Regions from separate parts of the Homo sapiens genome. Here regions 1, 2, 4 and 5 are each reported to be linked to region 3. The links are microRNA targets in miRTarBase. Many come from high-throughput screens and were not tested one by one. Region 3 holds a microRNA gene; each other region holds the end of a gene's coding sequence.
What was found. Region 3 holds the annotated microRNA hsa-miR-7515 (AGAAGGGAAGAUGGUGAC, at 2,113-2,130, opposite strand). A microRNA usually pairs through its seed, bases 2 to 8, with sites in the 3' UTR of a target mRNA and lowers its output. Matches are read on the target gene's strand: a 7mer-m8 pairs with bases 2 to 8, a 7mer-A1 pairs with bases 2 to 7 and ends in A, and an 8mer does both.

Region 1: miRTarBase lists ZFP3 as a target of hsa-miR-7515. Seed matches in the 3' UTR shown: 7mer-m8 at 2,921-2,927 and 7mer-A1 at 3,002-3,008.
Region 2: miRTarBase lists NR4A3 as a target of hsa-miR-7515. Seed matches in the 3' UTR shown: 7mer-m8 at 1,746-1,752.
Region 4: the mRNA of NONO is a reported target of hsa-miR-7515. Seed matches in the 3' UTR shown: 7mer-A1 at 923-929.
Region 5: the mRNA of DUSP8 is a reported target of hsa-miR-7515. Seed matches in the 3' UTR shown: 7mer-m8 at 811-817, 7mer-m8 at 1,193-1,199, 7mer-A1 at 1,738-1,744, 7mer-m8 at 2,234-2,240, 7mer-m8 at 2,254-2,260 and 7mer-A1 at 2,718-2,724.

The regions. Positions count from the first base shown.
Region 1 is chr17:5,092,528-5,095,794 of GRCh38, forward strand. ZFP3 (ZFP3 zinc finger protein) reads left to right here. Exons shown (of 2, transcript NM_153018.3): 2 at 1-3,267. The coding sequence ends at 486. Among named protein-coding and RNA genes, the nearest start is that of ZFP3, 16 kb to the left of the region's middle.
Region 2 is chr9:99,863,099-99,866,365 of GRCh38, reverse strand. It overlaps NR4A3 (nuclear receptor subfamily 4 group A member 3), which reads right to left. Exons shown (of 8, transcript NM_006981.4): 8 at 1-2,746. The coding sequence ends at 2,499. Among named protein-coding and RNA genes, the nearest start is that of STX17-DT, 42 kb to the left of the region's middle.
Region 3 is chr2:6,649,281-6,652,547 of GRCh38, reverse strand. MIR7515 (microRNA 7515) reads right to left here and starts at 2,175; the gene lies at 2,109-2,175. LINC03156 (long intergenic non-protein coding RNA 3156) reads left to right here and starts at 2,029. Exons shown (of 2, transcript NR_110497.1): 1 at 2,029-2,442; 2 at 3,167-3,267.
Region 4 is chrX:71,299,877-71,303,090 of GRCh38, forward strand. It overlaps NONO (non-POU domain containing octamer binding), which reads left to right. Exons shown (of 12, transcript NM_007363.5): 12 at 66-1,292. The coding sequence ends at 200. ITGB1BP2 (integrin subunit beta 1 binding protein 2) reads left to right here and starts at 1,874. Exons shown (of 11, transcript NM_012278.4): 1 at 1,874-1,994; 2 at 2,261-2,310; 3 at 2,401-2,457; 4 at 2,535-2,680. The coding sequence starts at 1,931.
Region 5 is chr11:1,553,613-1,556,879 of GRCh38, reverse strand. It overlaps DUSP8 (dual specificity phosphatase 8), which reads left to right. Exons shown (of 7, transcript NM_004420.3): 7 at 1-2,829. The coding sequence ends at 362. It overlaps LOC124902608, which reads left to right and starts at 1,400. Exons shown (of 2, transcript XM_047427956.1): 1 at 1,400-1,931; 2 at 2,200-2,273. The coding sequence starts at 1,400. The coding sequence ends at 2,273. RefSeq lists an enhancer at 716-1,513.

The DNA of each region.
Region 1 (3,267 bases), not on the chromosome of region 3:
TGTGGGAAAACTTTTGGCCAGAACTCAGAGATTATTAGACATATTAGAATTCATACTGGTGAGAAGCCCTATGTATGTAAGGAATGTGGGAAGGCCTTCAGGGGGAACTCAGAACTTCTTAGACATGAGAGAATTCACACTGGAGAGAAACCCTATGAATGCTTTGAGTGTGGAAAGGCTTTCAGGCGGACCTCTCACCTTATTGTCCACCAGAGAATTCATACTGGAGAGAAACCCCATCAATGTAATGAGTGTGCAAGAACCTTTTGGGATAATTCTGAGCTGCTTCTCCACCAGAAAATTCATATTGGAGAGAAACCTTATGAATGTAGCGAGTGTGAGAAAACATTTAGCCAGCATTCCCAACTTATCATACATCAGAGAATTCACACTGGAGAGAAGCCTTATGAGTGCCAAGAATGTCAGAAGACTTTTAGTCGGAGCTCTCACCTCCTCCGACATCAAAGTGTTCACTGTATGGAGTAATCTGCAAAATAGGAAAGCTTTTAGTGGAAAAGCTAAAGTCCAACTTATTCATTTGTTCATAATATGCAAATATGCACCCCAAGTATTCAAATCCAATGAATGGACAGAACCTCCTCTGTCCTCCCACTGATTTTAAATAGTTGGTTGAAGAAGATGAGGCACTTTTTTTTTTTTTTTTTTAAGCATTGGGGTCTTGCTCTGTTGCCCAGGATGGGATGCAGTGGCACAGTCGTAACTCACTGCTTCCTTGAACTCCTGGGCTCAAACAGTCCTCCTGCCTCAGCCTTCCAAATAGCTAGGACTGCAGGCACTAATGAGGCACTTTTATGAATTATTCATTGAGAGGTTTCAGTGTGCTAAGTTAAATCATAAAAGCTCTTTCAGGCCTTAATTTCCCCTCTGTCCTTCCTTCCCCTTCTCCTCCCCCAGTGGATCACATAACAAACATTAAGGGTCTGTACCAGCCATCTTTCCTAAATTACTCTTCAGCAAAATTGTGGGAACAGGATTCCACCACCTCCTAAGAATGAGAGTTGACTCATTGACTGTTACCCCCTGAAATATTAGAAAGTCATAATTTAGAAGACACACCTCATTCTCCTGTCCACTGTTTAGCATTGGAATAATTTAGTAAGCTGTTATTAGCTTCAAAGTCGTCCAGCCCTGCTATGAAGTTACTTTAGAAGATGGCAGCATTAATGAAGAAGCAGGCTCATTTCACATCTGTCAGGCTTCCTTATTCATCTGAAGAGGCTGCCATGATGGAGGAACTGACAGGCAATTTACAACGGGATTATAAGTGAAGGCCTTAGAATCCAGAGGGGCCGATTAGGCAACACCAGGGGATAAACAATTGAGGTCACACTGCTCGGCATGGGCAGAAGCAGCTCTTCAGGAGCTGTCCACACTTCAGGGGTGCTCAGACTGACTGCTCCTAAGAATTCTGCTGCATATATTTTTAGCCCCATCTCCTGCCACTGCTGACAGATATTGTGACAGTAAGTAGCAGACAGGACTGTGGCTTCACCTCCTCCGGGCACCTGGCTACAGTGATGAGTCAGTTCACCTGATGACAAACCAGGGTCTGGCCTTGCCAAAGCACTTAAGTTCTCATGACCTGGACCGCACTGGAGGCCCTGGCTAAGTCAGGATGTCGTAGCCTCTTCTTGGTTTTGCCCCTTGGCCTTGAAATTCTTTTTTCTTGAATAACTTTAAAAAAATAGAGATAAAGTCTTGCTATGTTGCCCAGGCTGGTCTTGAATGCCTGGGCTCCAGCAATCTTTTTGCCTCAACTTCCCAAAGTATTGAGATTACAGGTGTGAGCTACCATGCCCGGCCTTGAAATTCTTTCTTCGCTATGTCTGCATGTTTTTTGTGTTCTGTATTTATTTCTTCTCCAAGGAAACAGCCTACATTTTCCATGTGTCCATGTTTCTGAGGCCGTGGGTGACAGTGGGAATTGCACTAATGGGGGCCCAACAGGCCTGGGGGCTGGTCTTAGCGCTAGACCTTGAACAAGGCACTTCACCTGCTGGTCTCCAATTTTCTCCTCTGTAAAATGAAAGAGTTGAACTAAGTGATCTCAAAAGTTTCAACCAGCCCGATAATTCCTTAATTCTTTAAAAATTTAACTTTATATATCTTTATTATTCTTTAACCTCATCTTTGTTACACTAATATTAGTCACTAATATTTATTGAGTGTTTACTACCTGACAGGCAGAGTGCCAGTTTACATTTTAATTTTCACATCATTTCTATGATGTGGGTACTCATTTTTTTAAAGCTTTATGAAGGTATAATTTACGTACTATAAAATTCACCTGTTTTAAGTGTTCAGTTGAATGATTTTTAATTTACATAGTGGTGCAACCATCAATGATGTGGGTATTCTTACCCCAATTTAAAAGATAAGAAGGGGCAGTGTTAAGTAATTGACCCATGATTCCACAGCTAGTAAGAGCGACAGCCAAGACTCCAAACCTGGTTGATGCTCTTAACCACTGTGCTATGCCGCAGGTAGGCAGATTCATTACTGCCTTATCTGAAACCCTTTGCACAGTTTCTATTACTGATTTCTATGTAGATTTGAATATAACAAATTTAAATCATGTCCTTGGTAACAGAACTGATCACAGCCAAAAAAAATTCACCAAATGGGTTTATTCTGTACTCCAATATAGGTGTCTTCCCAGGTTTATATCCTTGGCTTGAGAAAAGGGTTGTACAAATAGATGATTGCAGAGTTTCCACATCCTTCCAGATACCTCTGCCTCTAGCAGTCACACTCTTAGTAAGGGAAGTTGTTTGATTTACTTCTTCCCTTAGGTTGATTACAAGTGAAGTGCGCCGTCTTATTCCTTTTTCATTGCTGGAGCACAAATTGAATTGTGCCCAGACCGTATCTTTCTCACATGAAACCTGGATCTCACCTATCCCTTCCATGCCTGATTCCCGTGTTTGCATATTTTATTTCCACATTTACCTCTTGTCAGCCCTGACAGAGAATTTGGCACCCCTTCAAGCTTCTCCTAAACAATCTATGCACACAAACACCCCTGAGCAATATGGACTTCACTGAAGATAGTGTGTAAGCAAAGGAGAAGAGTTCACATTGTGCATCCTATTAGACATTTTGTTCTCAGAAGTACCTTACTGGCCAAACCAATGAAGGTTTTCCTCTTGTCCTCCCCTCTCAAGGCTCAGTCACCTCAACTTCTTTTTGCCTACTAGATATCCAATCCATCACCTCGCCTCCCCTGGCCCTAGCTCAATTACCCTC
Region 2 (3,267 bases), not on the chromosome of region 3:
AAAAGTAACAGCATTTCTCTAGGGCTCTGTTTTTATTTTGTTTTGTTCTTCCTTTATAGACACGACAAAAACAAGGATTAACTTTCCAAATACTCATGGTGCACAAGAAGGTTATGTATGCACAGTATTTCTAATTTATTCAAATTCAATTTGAATTTGGTCTGAAGCTATCTTGTATGAAATGTTAGCTTTCCTGATATTTAATAATATTTATTATGTTTGCATATAAGCTCAAAAAATTAATGCAAAAGTATACTTTACTCATGGTTATCTTCAGGTAAATATTAGTGGTTATGTTTAAAAGCCTGATTTTATATAGATGAAGTTGAGAAAAAAAAAGAGTATGGAAAGGTAAATTAGGTCTTAGTCTTGATTCTGTTACCAGCTGTTTGACCTTGAGTAACTCTTCACCCTTCAATGGGCCCCAGTTTGCTCCTCTATGAATTTTAAGGGGTTGGACTAGTTGACAGACCAGGCCCCTTCCAAGTCTAACATTTCAAAATCCTAACATTCCAGGTTCTATCATCTTGATATATAAAAATAACAATCTTTCATAAAAGCACACATAACATAATCAAATATTAGAATGACTCTTGGAAAAAAACATATGATTTCCTATCTGGGTTATACTTTGCAGCAATTAGGCAATTCATTTGGCATTTGTTTGATTGTATAATTTAATGACAATATAAACAGCATAGTTTTGTTATTTTCCTTTAAAAAGACTAAAGCAAAAATGATTTAAAGCTAACAAAAACTACTGTGACATCAGTTTGACATTCAAAGTTTGTTTCTTAGCAAAATGGCCAAAGATATTTTGACTTGATACAGAGTATATAATATAAAGACTTTTAGACCTAAAAATCTTCAAACATTATTCGAATTTAGCAAAACATAAGCAAAATTTTAATATCAAAGTGCTAAACAGTACTGCCTTAAAAGTCACTGCAAATGAACCATAAAATAACGGCATGGGAAGTGACATTTATTGTACAAATGGTTAATAAAAAGACACATTATAAATATATATATGTAACCTGCTATATTTATATATATATATATATTTGCTTATTTAATTTCTAATTGGTGTATCCAAGTCACTGTGAACACCCCATTTAATTACTCTGTAACTCAGCTTCCAGGAGCTGGTGGTCTTGCAATAAATACAGGCAAAGCTATTACAATATAACGTGCATACAAATGTTTATACAAATAAGGACACTATGCAACAAATTATCTCATAGTAATATGGCATTAACAGTAGAAACATACAAAAGGGAGTACGAACACGGAATGTTGAAACGCAGCCCACTAATCCTTCCTAGTACTCACACTCATACTATTTTTTAAATCTTTTCTAGTATTCACATTCATACTATTTTTTAAAAAGATTTGCTTGCTCTCCAAAATTGTCTCCTTAACCAATAACAAAAATTAAATTATATCTATAAAAATCCTTATTGTCCCTGGTGCTTACCCTGTATGACCAGTTCCTGCTGATTTGCATGTTCTTATCTAGGGATCAAATACTCAACTGACTTATGGCGCTTCTGAATGAATATACCAGTCAGTTACTATAACTGAAGCAAGTTTAGGGAACTCTGGTGGGGTTGATAGAACACAACCAAAACAGTTACATGTAATCCAGTTTATAATCTGATCCACTTTCAGGATAGCTGGACAGTCAGGGCAGGGATCTGGTTCCATCAAGAATGGCCTAAAAGTCTTGGATGGGCCATACCTCAGAAGGGATCGACAGGGAAGGTGAACACAGCCTCTGCTAGGGATATTAACGTGTCATTTGCTAACATGACTGCCTCCTTTTTATTTCCATATAGAATAAAGGAGAGTTAATAAACAAGACTTAGTAAGACAGCACTTTAAAAAATTGCACTTGTTTATGGAAGCAAACAGCCATTATTGTTTTGCCATGTCTGATTTGTAGGTAATCCTCCATCTTTCACCATTTGTTAAAATAAAGGAAGAAGGAAATTAAAAGGAAGTTTCTGCCTTGTTTGCACCACATACGTACCTTTGATACAGGAAGCATATTTTCAAGGGACCAATCTTTAAGACACATCCTACCCTGGCGAACAACCCTTGGCTGTTCTTGTTTTTAAATACAAAGCAACTATAATTGGATTCCCCAGAAAGAGTTTTAAAACAGTTATATTATCCTTTTTTTTCCTGCTGGGATAGCATTGTCCAAAAGTGCTTTGTTAGCAATTTCTTAGAAAACCCTCATGAACTATAACCCCCTCCCACCCCATCCCCCAATGCCTAAATATAAAACACAACCCCAACACAATACTCTGCAAGTTTTCTGGCTTTAGGTTGTAAGGAAAAGAGCCAGAAAAAAAAGAAAGTCTTTGCTTTCTACAGGAGCTGCTTTTCCTCTTAAGGAAGGACAGGAAATGATAGGTTTCCAAACCTATCCCTTTGCTGCGTAGCAAGCAGGTGCTAGGAGAGGAGGCAGCTCACTGCTCCACTGCTCCTGATTAGAAAGGTAGGGTGTCCAGGAAGAGCTTGTCAATGATGGAAGGTGGAGACACCAAGTCTTCCAGCTTCAGGTAGAAGATGCGCTGGAGGCCCAGGGTGCAGATCTTCCTCAGTTCTACCAGGGCACCCAGGACCTTGGACTCGGTGGGCTCCAGAGCCTGTCCCTTACTCTGGTGGTCTTTTAAACTGCTTGTGATCTTGTTGCATAGCTCTTCGACTCTCTTTGGTTCTTTTAACCCATGTCTTTCTGCAGAGGGATAGAGAAGGGCAAGAAGTTTAGGAGGCAAATACATCTTAAGACACTTTGAATCCCTAATTGAGGTCTGTGTCTCATTCTGCCAGTTTGGATAGCTTCTTTGCAATCAAAGTGCCCTCCCTGTTAGAGATAGCTCATGGCCTTTGGTATGAAGCAACACCAAGGTTTGAATCCCAGTCCCAACACTTACTTGCTGTGTGCCCTAGAGTAAGTCTCTTTACTTCTGAGCACCCATTTCCTTATGAGATGAAGAAAATGATCATACCCAATTCAGGGTTTCTGGGATGGCCAGCTTAGGTAAGTAACACAAGGGAAGCACAGTTCCTGGCACACAGCCACATGGAATGAATGGCAGGGTGGTTATTATTTTGCATACATTATCCTACTAAGCTCTCACAAAGCCTTGTCAGTAGGCAACTATTTTTCAGAGTGACATAGAAACACATCCAGGCAAATGAATTAATGTTTCTATCTTGACAGACTCATTTAAGGGAGGTGGGGAGGCTGTAACT
Region 3 (3,267 bases):
TTCTGAATTCAGGTTCATACCATTACATTTCCTCCTGCTGCAATGTTATTTTCAGCCTGTCTTTCAAGCCTGTCCAGATTTTTGTGAACGCTGTTACTGAGTTTGCATGCACAAGGTTCCTCTCACAGATGAATCATGCCCAAATTTGACAAGTGTACTTTCTACATCTTCCACTACAATTTCTAAGAAACGAATAGGCTTCTACTGACATTAGTGAGTGGCATAAGCCTGAATGAAATAGACTATGACTCTTGACTGGCTGAATATACAATAAAAGCATAAAACACAAAATGCTTTTCCAACATAGATGCTAGAAATGAGAGTAAAGCTAAAATTCCCCAGCCATACACCCCATGTGGGCTCCAGCACTCTACGTTTAGCTGCCCAGATATCAGCACACATGGCTGTGATGGAGCCAGGAGGTGGGTGCTTCAGTCTTGACTTCCCCACTTTCTATCTTGTGTCCCACCATCTAACTTGTTTTGGGCAAGTCAGTTTTTTTGAGCCTACCTTTCCTCCTCTATGGTGTGTGGGTAGTAACACCAGTCAGACTTAACCTGAAAGTTGTGTGAATGAAAAGCATAATCTGTATGTCAACCCTGAAGATATACGTATGTCAGAAATTACTATAAAGAGATCATCAGCTGGGCACGGTGGCTCACACCTGTAATCCTAGCACTTTGGGAGGCCGAGGCGGGCAGATCACCTGAGGTCAGGAGTTCGAGACCAGCCTGGCCAACAAGATGAAACCCTGTCTCTACTAAAAATACAAAAATTAGCTGGGCGTGGTGGCGGACACCTGTAATCCCAGCTACTCGGGAGGCTGAGGTAGGAGAATTGCTTGAACCCAGGAGGCGGAGGTTGTGGTGAGCCGAGATGGCAGCATTGCACTCCAGCCTGGGGAACAAGAGCAAGACTTCATCTGGAAAAAAAAAAAAAAAGAAAAAAAAAGAGATCATCATTAATTTCCTTTCATCTCATGATGTAGAAACATTTAGATGTTGGGATCCTTCCACATACTTATCTAAGAAAATCTCTGGCTTTTTTTTTTTTTTTTTTTTTTTTTGAGATGGAGTCTCGCTCTTGATGCCCAGGCTGGCGTGCAGTGGCACCATCTGGGCTCATTGCAACCTCTGCCTCCCGGGTTTGAGAAATTCTCCTGCCTCAGTCTCCTGAGTATCTGGGATTACAGGCACCCGCCACCACGCCTGGCTAATTTTTTAAATATTTTTAGTAGAGACAGGGTTTCACCATGTTGACCAAGCTAGCCTCAAACTCCTGACCTCAGGTGATCTACCCACCTTGGCTTCACAAAGTGCTGGGATTACAGGCATGGGCCACTTTTCTATTTGTTTATTTTTGTGTTGGTTTTTCTATTTTTGGTGTTTCTGGATCATGGACTTTGAAAAACTTCCTGGCTTAGCAAATTAGTGTCCTTGTTTCAGTAGCTTCTGCTTGAAGATTTCTGCTGTAGGCAATGAGCCAACTGGCCAGAAAATATCCAGTTATGCTCTGCAGGTTCATGGTGGATGGGGACTTTCACTGTTGTTTAGAGAAACCATTGAGTGGATAACGTTCCAAACAGCAAAATCAAATGGGGATTCTGTACACTCGGGAGTGTCGGCTCTGGACAAATTAGGTTGCACTTGATTGTAAGAAGCCAGGCTTTATTAAAATAGAATATAAATATTAACAGAAACGGACTGCTTCTAATCCCCACTACCGTTGGCCAGGGAGGCCTCTCTTCAGGTTTTCTGAATGGAACTAAATAAGGAGCCCATGTTACCGCGGAAAGGGCACTGTGATTAGGAGCCTTTCATGAGCTTCCATGAACGTCTAGGGCTTGGAAACTTCATTTTCAAAATAAGGCTGTTGGATTAGATGATTTTCCCAACCCCTAACCCTCTGTGTTAATGAATGGACTGACTCTATAATCATGTTCCTTGGACATTTCTATGGAAACACTGAGCCATCATAAGGGAGGCCTTCATTCTGATGTAACAAAGCCAGCTGTGTCCACATGAGAACATTGGCAAGAGTGGGGACATGGAAGCTGTGTTCAGGCCGGTCCACGCTGGGTGACCCATGTGACCTGCTGCTTAGCAATTCCTTGTCACCATCTTCCCTTCTCAGCCTCTTTTTTCATGCTAACAGGCATAAATGAAATGATAAAAGTTTGAGCTCTTCTCGTGGAATTCTCGTGATACAGATATGTGCTACATGTTCATCATCTCGTTGGTCTTCACCATGATAACTGTGGAGTAAGAATTATAAGCAGGTCACAGATTAGGGACTTGAGATTGACAGTTTGGCTTCCCTGTTCTGGGTGGCAAAGCCTGTGGAGTACTCACCTACCTGCTGCATGAAGGCAGCATGGAGGGACTGTGGTGGATTATCTGCAAAGATGGCCAAAATTCTCTCATCCCTGCAGGCACATACAAGGTAAGAACACCTTTACCAGTGGAATGTGATGAAAATGCTGCCCAGACAATTCTAGACAGGGCCTTAAGAGGTCTAGATGCTTCCACATTTGCTTTCTTGGGAGCTCTGAGTTATCATGTGAGAACCACCAGTCTCCCCAACCTGCACCCTAAGCTCATTATCCACAAGGCTGTGCAAAATAATAAATCACTGTTGTTAGGACGCAAAGTTTGGTAGTGGTTTGTTATGTAGTCGTGGATAACTGCAGCAGGGATCTCAGCAACTTTTCTTCTCTGAACTAATGTTTAAAGTCAGGATGTAACATATTGTCTCCATGTGACTTTGTTGAACTAAATAAAGAATGCTAATACCAGATGCGGACCCTGCCTCTTCTGTTCTCTAAGACTAGGCATTGCTCTCTGATCAGAAGAGTCAATCCTGGTGAGTTTAACTTGAGCCTCAGAATCCTACTCAACACAAAGTTCCAGAGAGAAGCGATTATCAATGCCAATACCTTAGAGATGGTACTGGCTGTGGAATCTGTCATCCCTTGACTAGGTGGTCTCTAAGTTCCTTTCCAATTTTAATGTTTTCTGTTCTGATTTATCTTTTGGCATTGTGCAGGTGTCAGGAGAAAAAAATAATGCCAATGTGTCTCTTTAATTCCTTTATCATTAAGTCATAACCTTTCCCAACTCCCAATCCAGTTTTCTTACGTCAATACTTTGGTTTTTGCTTTGTGAAGATGCCAGAATCAGTCAAAACTAAGCTCACTGTCCTTGCTAATATTCTGCCCCAGAGAAGAACTGAAGCTCAGCTCTTCACCCTACAGAAAGCCTGAATTTT
Region 4 (3,214 bases), not on the chromosome of region 3:
TACAGATGGGTGGGAAGCTTCCAACAATGGCTCTGTTACAGTGTTGCTCTCTTTTTCTCTTTAAGACCCCACCAACAACTGAACGCTTTGGTCAGGCTGCTACAATGGAAGGAATTGGGGCAATTGGTGGAACTCCTCCTGCATTCAACCGTGCAGCTCCTGGAGCTGAATTTGCCCCAAACAAACGTCGCCGATACTAATAAGTTGCAGTGTCTAGTTTCTCAAAACCCTTAAAAGAAGGACCCTTTTTGGACTAGCCAGAATTCTACCCTGGAAAAGTGTTAGGGATTCCTTCCAATAGTTAGATCTACCCTGCCTGTACTACTCTAGGGAGTATGCTGGAGGCAGAGGGCAAGGGAGGGGTGGTATTAAACAAGTCAATTCTGTGTGGTATATTGTTTAATCAGTTCTGTGTGGTGCATTCCTGAAGTCTCTAATGTGACTGTTGAGGGCCTGGGGAAACCATGGCAAAGTGGATCCAGTTAGAGCCCATTAATCTTGATCATTCCGGTTTTTTTTTTTTTTGTCCATCTTGTTTCATTTGCTTGCCCCGCCCCCGAGACGGAGTCTTACTCTGTCGCCCAGGCTGGAGTGTAGTGGCATGATCTCGGCTCACTGCAATCTCTGCCTCCCGGGTTCAAGCTTGTCCAGGTTGATCTTGAACTCCTGACCTCGTGATCTACCCACCTCGGCCTCCCAAAATGCTGGGATTACAGGGGTGAGCCACCGTGCCCAACCTCACTTGCTTCTTATCCTTACACTCCCCCAGCCCCAGAGAAACTGCCACATACACCACAAAAACCAAACATCCCCCAATGACCTTAGCCCCATTGCTCCATTCACTCCCAGGTGAGAATTCAGGCAAACGTCCACAAAGGTCACAGGCAGCGTACATACGGTTCTGTTATACCCCATATATTACCCCTTCATGTCCTAAAGAAGACATTTTCTCTTAGAGATTTTCATTTTAGTGTATCTTTAAAAAAAAATCTTGTGTTAACTTGCCTCCATCTTTTTCTTGGGTGAGGACACCCAGGAATGACCCTTTTGTGTCTATGATGTTGCTGTTCACAGCTTTTCTTGATAGGCCTAGTACAATCTTGGGAACAGGGTTACTGTATACTGAAGGTCTGACAGTAGCTCTTAGACTCGCCTATCTTAGGTAGTCATGCTGTGCATTTTTTTTTTCATTGGTGTACTGTGTTTGATTTGTCTCATATATTTGGAGTTTTTCTGAAAAATGGAGCAGTAATGCAGCATCAACCTATTAAAATACATTTTAAGCCTTTTAATTTTCTGTGGTGTTTTTGAAGGGGAAAGGAGGGAGGGGAGTTATCTTAGGAGATGAGCAGTAGACTCTATAAAGGTAATCCTTTATGACCTTTGGATTACAGTATTGATCTAGACAAACATGGGGAGGAGGTGGGGATGAGGTGCATCAAATGGCTGGAGGGGTTGGCAAGGATTAGCGCTATTGATACTACATGGAAGTAATGATGGAGGAAAGCTGCCCCTCTGAAAGAGGAAGAAAATGGGCTTAATCCTCATCGAGCTGGGGGCGCGGGGGGGGTCTCAAAATTGGTATTTGTTTCTTAGCAGCTGCTGCTGTGTCCAAGGCTTGGAATTGCTGTGGTGAATCTAAAACTGTCTCAGTAGTGGTGAGCTGACCTCACCCAAGTTCAAAGCCCTACTCTGCCTGATCCTTTTTTCCTGAGCCTCAGAGCTAAAATGCCCCCGAGCTCTTTCCTATTGGCTGGAAAGACGAATTGAAGTTCCCTTGCCCATGTTAGGAGGTGTACGCCTCCTGAACTAAAGATAGAAACAGCTGGCCCTTCCAGGCAGCTAAAAGCCTCCAGACTAAGAGGTGTTCCCCATTCGGCAGCCAGACTCCTTGAAATACCCTTTCAGTAATCATTCAACCAACGCTTCCATGTCTCTACTCTGTCGTAACAAAGGCTGTGGGCAGCACTTTGACCCTAATACCAACCTTCCTGGTGAGTAAAGAATCCTGACCTGGCCAGGGGCTCTGTGTGGGTGTTGGGGACTGGTCAGCTGGGGGGCAGTGTGTTTGAGGAGCGGGGAAAGAAACTACCTGCCCTAGTTTAATTGGTCTGAGTGATCTTACAGCCTTTGCTGGCTTTTTTTTTTTTCTTCACATTATATGGGAAGAAACCATAAATAGAAACCCGGGGAAGAGGTGAAAAATGATACTTGGTATAGTTATCTTCCCTTCCTTGATAACTTCTACTGATGTCCACAGATTCCTGTTGCCATCACCCTGGGGTCCCAATCTTCCATGATGCACTTAAGGTGAGGAGTAGGTGAGGGGGGTTAGCAAGAGCATTTCCCAGAAGAGATAATACCCAGGAAGCTAAGCTGATCTGGGTCTCTTGTTATCAGGGTTGGTCCTGCTGCCGAAAGCGAACTGTAGATTTCTCTGAGTTCTTAAACATCAAGGTAAATTATTTATGTACTTGGATTCTGCCCCCAATAGAAGGATTCTATCCCTAATCCTATCTCCTTATCTATACTAGGGCTGTACTATGGGACCACACTGTGCTGAGAAGCTTCCTGAGGCCCCTCAACCTGAAGGCCCTGCTACAAGCAGTTCACTTCAGGAGCAAAAACCTCTGAATGTGATTCCAAAGTCAGCAGAGACCTTGCGCCGGGAGAGGCCCAAGTAAAGAGGAGGAGGCCCCTGGACTTTTCTTATTTTCATGTAGCTTCCTAGGAGTGATTAATGGGTCATTGAGGACTGGGAACTAGGGACCAGGGATGTGAGGAGGGCCAGATGTCAGGGTTTGGATGGTGTATATCCTGTGCCTTAGGGGAAATTTGTGTCTGGAAATAACGCCCTTTCCTCTAAGGTGGTGTGGGATGATGGGATAGATACCTGAATCAACAGAGTAGATAGCCCCTCACAAATACATCCTTAGTGTATAACACAAAAGGGATTGTTGAGAATGACTTCTCTTTCTAGAAAAGAACTTTAAGATAAATCTCATATCAAGAAAAGGATGTATTGTATTATTGGCAGCCAGGAGACTTCCCAAATTTTGTGGGAATAATAAGAGCAACAGAAGGAAGTCATATTAGGTCCACGATTAGATAAAGAGGAAGAGGATATGACTCAGTTCTGCAGAGAAAAGTGGTTAGGTTTAGAGCAACTGAGTAGATGGGTAAGAGAAGTGCTGGGGATTTCTCTAGGGTTCAG
Region 5 (3,267 bases), not on the chromosome of region 3:
GGGCCTGGGCACCGCCGCTCGACTCCCCAGGCACGCCGTCGCCCGACGGGCCCTGGTGCTTCAGCCCCGAGGGCGCACAGGGGGCGGGCGGGGTGCTGTTTGCGCCCTTCGGCCGGGCGGGCGCCCCGGGACCAGGCGGCGGCAGCGACCTGCGGCGGCGGGAGGCAGCGAGGGCTGAGCCCCGGGACGCGCGGACCGGCTGGCCCGAGGAGCCGGCCCCGGAGACGCAGTTCAAGCGCCGCAGCTGCCAGATGGAGTTCGAGGAGGGCATGGTGGAGGGGCGCGCGCGCGGCGAGGAGCTGGCCGCCCTGGGCAAGCAGGCGAGCTTCTCGGGCAGCGTGGAGGTCATCGAGGTGTCCTGACCCCTCCGCTGCCCTCGGCCCCGCCGCCCGCAGCCAGGCCCGTTATAAATGTATATTATATATAATGCAAAGAAAGGTAAATGGTTTTACTGGGATTTTTATCGAGAAGTAAATATTTCGATTTTTTATTTATTTAAGCTGTTCATTCTGGCAATGATTTGGCAACAGTGCGGGTGGTCCTCGAGCTCTATTTTTACTGTCTGGTATTTAAACTGAAACATACGTTTCTAAGCAATACGAGGCCACCTTCAGTCGCAAGCTGGGTGCCAGGCCTGGGGCCCCTCCCAGTTCCCCCGCCCCAGGAAACACTGCTGACCTTTGCAAAGGCTGCCGAGCTTTCGTGCACTTTTTACATAACAAAAAGGTGAAAAAAAGGAAAAAAAAACTTCTTTGCCACAAACTGAGCCGCAGAACCCCCCTTCTCCCCCCACCCACCTCCCCTGCTCCCTCCCTTCTCTGCGCCGGCCTAGGGCTCTGCACCAAAGCCATAGGATGGAGGAGCAGGAGCTGGTGTGCCCCGGAGAGGTGCGGCCAGCCCTCCATCAGCTCCAGGCACCAAATCTTGGTGGCAAGGAGGGCACCCCGCTGCCCGTTGCCCCAGAGCTGTTCTCTGGCAGGGGAGGACAGGCATTGGGCTTCATGGTGCCAGGGTGTTCAGAGGGGCTGAGAAATAGAACAGTGTGTGTAGGGGCTTCGGGCAGGGGGTTCTGGAACGTCAGATGAGGTGCAGCCCAGGGGAGGACAGAGGTGTTAGTGCCCCCAACTCCTGCCAGAGCCCCAGTCCAGCCACAGAGTGGCTCAGAAAGGCCATTCCTAGAGGGCTGCGGCCCTCCCTTCTCCCTTGCCCATGCCCCCAGAGCTGCCTGCCGGGCAGGGTGGCACCATTGCAGGAGAGGAGCTTGGCCTCCGGGGGTCAGGCAGGAGGCGCCTGGCTAGCCAGTGCTGGCTCCACTGGGCAGGAAGCCCTGGACCCCCAGGTATGAGGAGGGGGTGGTCTTAGGGTTCTGTTCCAGGTCTGCCCCGCCCCCCTCCCAGCCATGCCCCAGGCAGAACTTGGAATTCAGGTGTGCACCTGCAGGCTGAGGGGCTCTGTGAGCAGGTGCTGCTCACACAGGGAGTTCAGGCGCCAGCCAAGCCCCTGTGCTGCTGGGATAGGCCTGCTTCACTTAGGGAGCACTGCCTCAAGACAGGTAAAGCCCCCTCGTTTGCCCCCACCCCCATGGGGCCGCTCAGGAGAGAAACTCCCATTCACCCCTTTCCCAGGGTGCTCTCTCTCTAGGTGGCATGCCAGCCCCCAAACACAAGTGGCTTTTGGGCCCAGGTGGGTCAGCCTGCTGCCCCTGCCCCATACCCCCTCGGGCCATTGGGACCCCTGCCCTTCAGATGTCCTAGGGTCTAGGAGTGGGGCCAGTCACTGTGGGAAGAGGCCAGGGGCTTGGCCGGAGAGGCAGCCCAGGGCAGGACCCAGTCCTGAGTCCTGGAGCAGGGCCAGGGAGGCGCCCATCCCGCCCCAGCCAGCCGCCCTCTCTGCTGTTTCTTCTATTTGTTCTTCTTTTCACCCACAGCTCTGTGTTCCTGTCATCCCTCCTTTCAGCAAAAGTCCTGTTCCCGTTCCCTCTGTCCCCACCCACTCCTGTTCCCCCAAGAAAATAAGCTATCGTTGTATTTGCAATCTATGGATTAGAGGTTTAAGTATTTATTATTATTGGTTAATTATTATTAATTATGTAAATTTGCCTCCCATATGTCTGTTGCGTTGGGTTTCTGAGGAGACCCTGGGTGAGGAGGATGCACTGGCTTCCCGCTTCTCGCCCCCCACCCCTGTGCTGTCCGGGAGACAGTGGTCTGGGGCCACTGGTTGGGCCCCCTTCTCCCTTCCCCCTTCCCCTTGTCCCTTCTGCAGGCCGTTGAGGGGGGCTGTCTGTCTCAGTCTGTCTCTGCTCCCACTCTTGAGGCACTGGTTACCGCAAAGTGAGCAGCCAGCAGGGGGGCGAAGGTCCTGTGTTGGCCACTGCCTCCTCCAGTGCTGCAGGAGGCGGGCTGAGGCCCCACCTGGTGGCTTTCACCTGACCCAGCCCTGAGTCCTCTCCAAGCCTCTCTCCGGCCCCTCCCACCTGGCCACTGCCTCCTCCAGTGCTGCGGGAGGCGGGCCAGGGCCCCACCTGGTGGCTTTCACCTGACCCAGCCCTGAGTCCTCTCCAAGCCTCTCTCCGGCCCCTCCCACCTGGCCACTGCCTGGCATTGGGATCGCCCCAAAATGGACCCGGCCCCTCCTGTTATTTGCTGGGAAGTCCAGCGGAGGAGAGGGTGCAGGTCCCCCGCTGAGCCTCCAGTCTCTGTAGACTGGGCTGCCGGCCCTTCAGCCCCCCTTGGAGCCCCTCCCGCCACAGCCGCACCTTCTGCTCCCGGCCCCTCCCTTTGTATTTGGAGACAATGTGTTGTAATAAAGCTTAAAGTGGATGTTTTCCCCACGACTCCGCGCCTCTTCCTTCAGACTGGTGGTGGGCAGGGTGGGGGCAGAGGCTGCTGGGAGGCAGGCCTGAGGCCAGAGCCTGGTGTGTTGGGTCTGGAAACTTGCCCCAGGCTCACACCGCGGGTGAGCTCTGAGAATAGTCCCTGGGGGCCAGGCATGGGCACAGGTCCTCAGCTGCACCTTTAGGGTGTAAAACACACTTTTTCAGTTGTTACAGGCTAGTAAAAGCTTAAATAACTTAAAACGATATAAAACCTCAGTGTTACCCACCAGTCCCCTCACTCCCACAATCCCAATGTGAACAGTTGGATGCTTCCCTCCCAGCCCCTCCATGTGTGCTGTGTGCTGTGTGCATGTGTGTGGGTGCATATACGTACCAGCAGAAATAGGGGTCTAGCTATATATAGTGTCTCCAACCAGACTTTTTTTTTT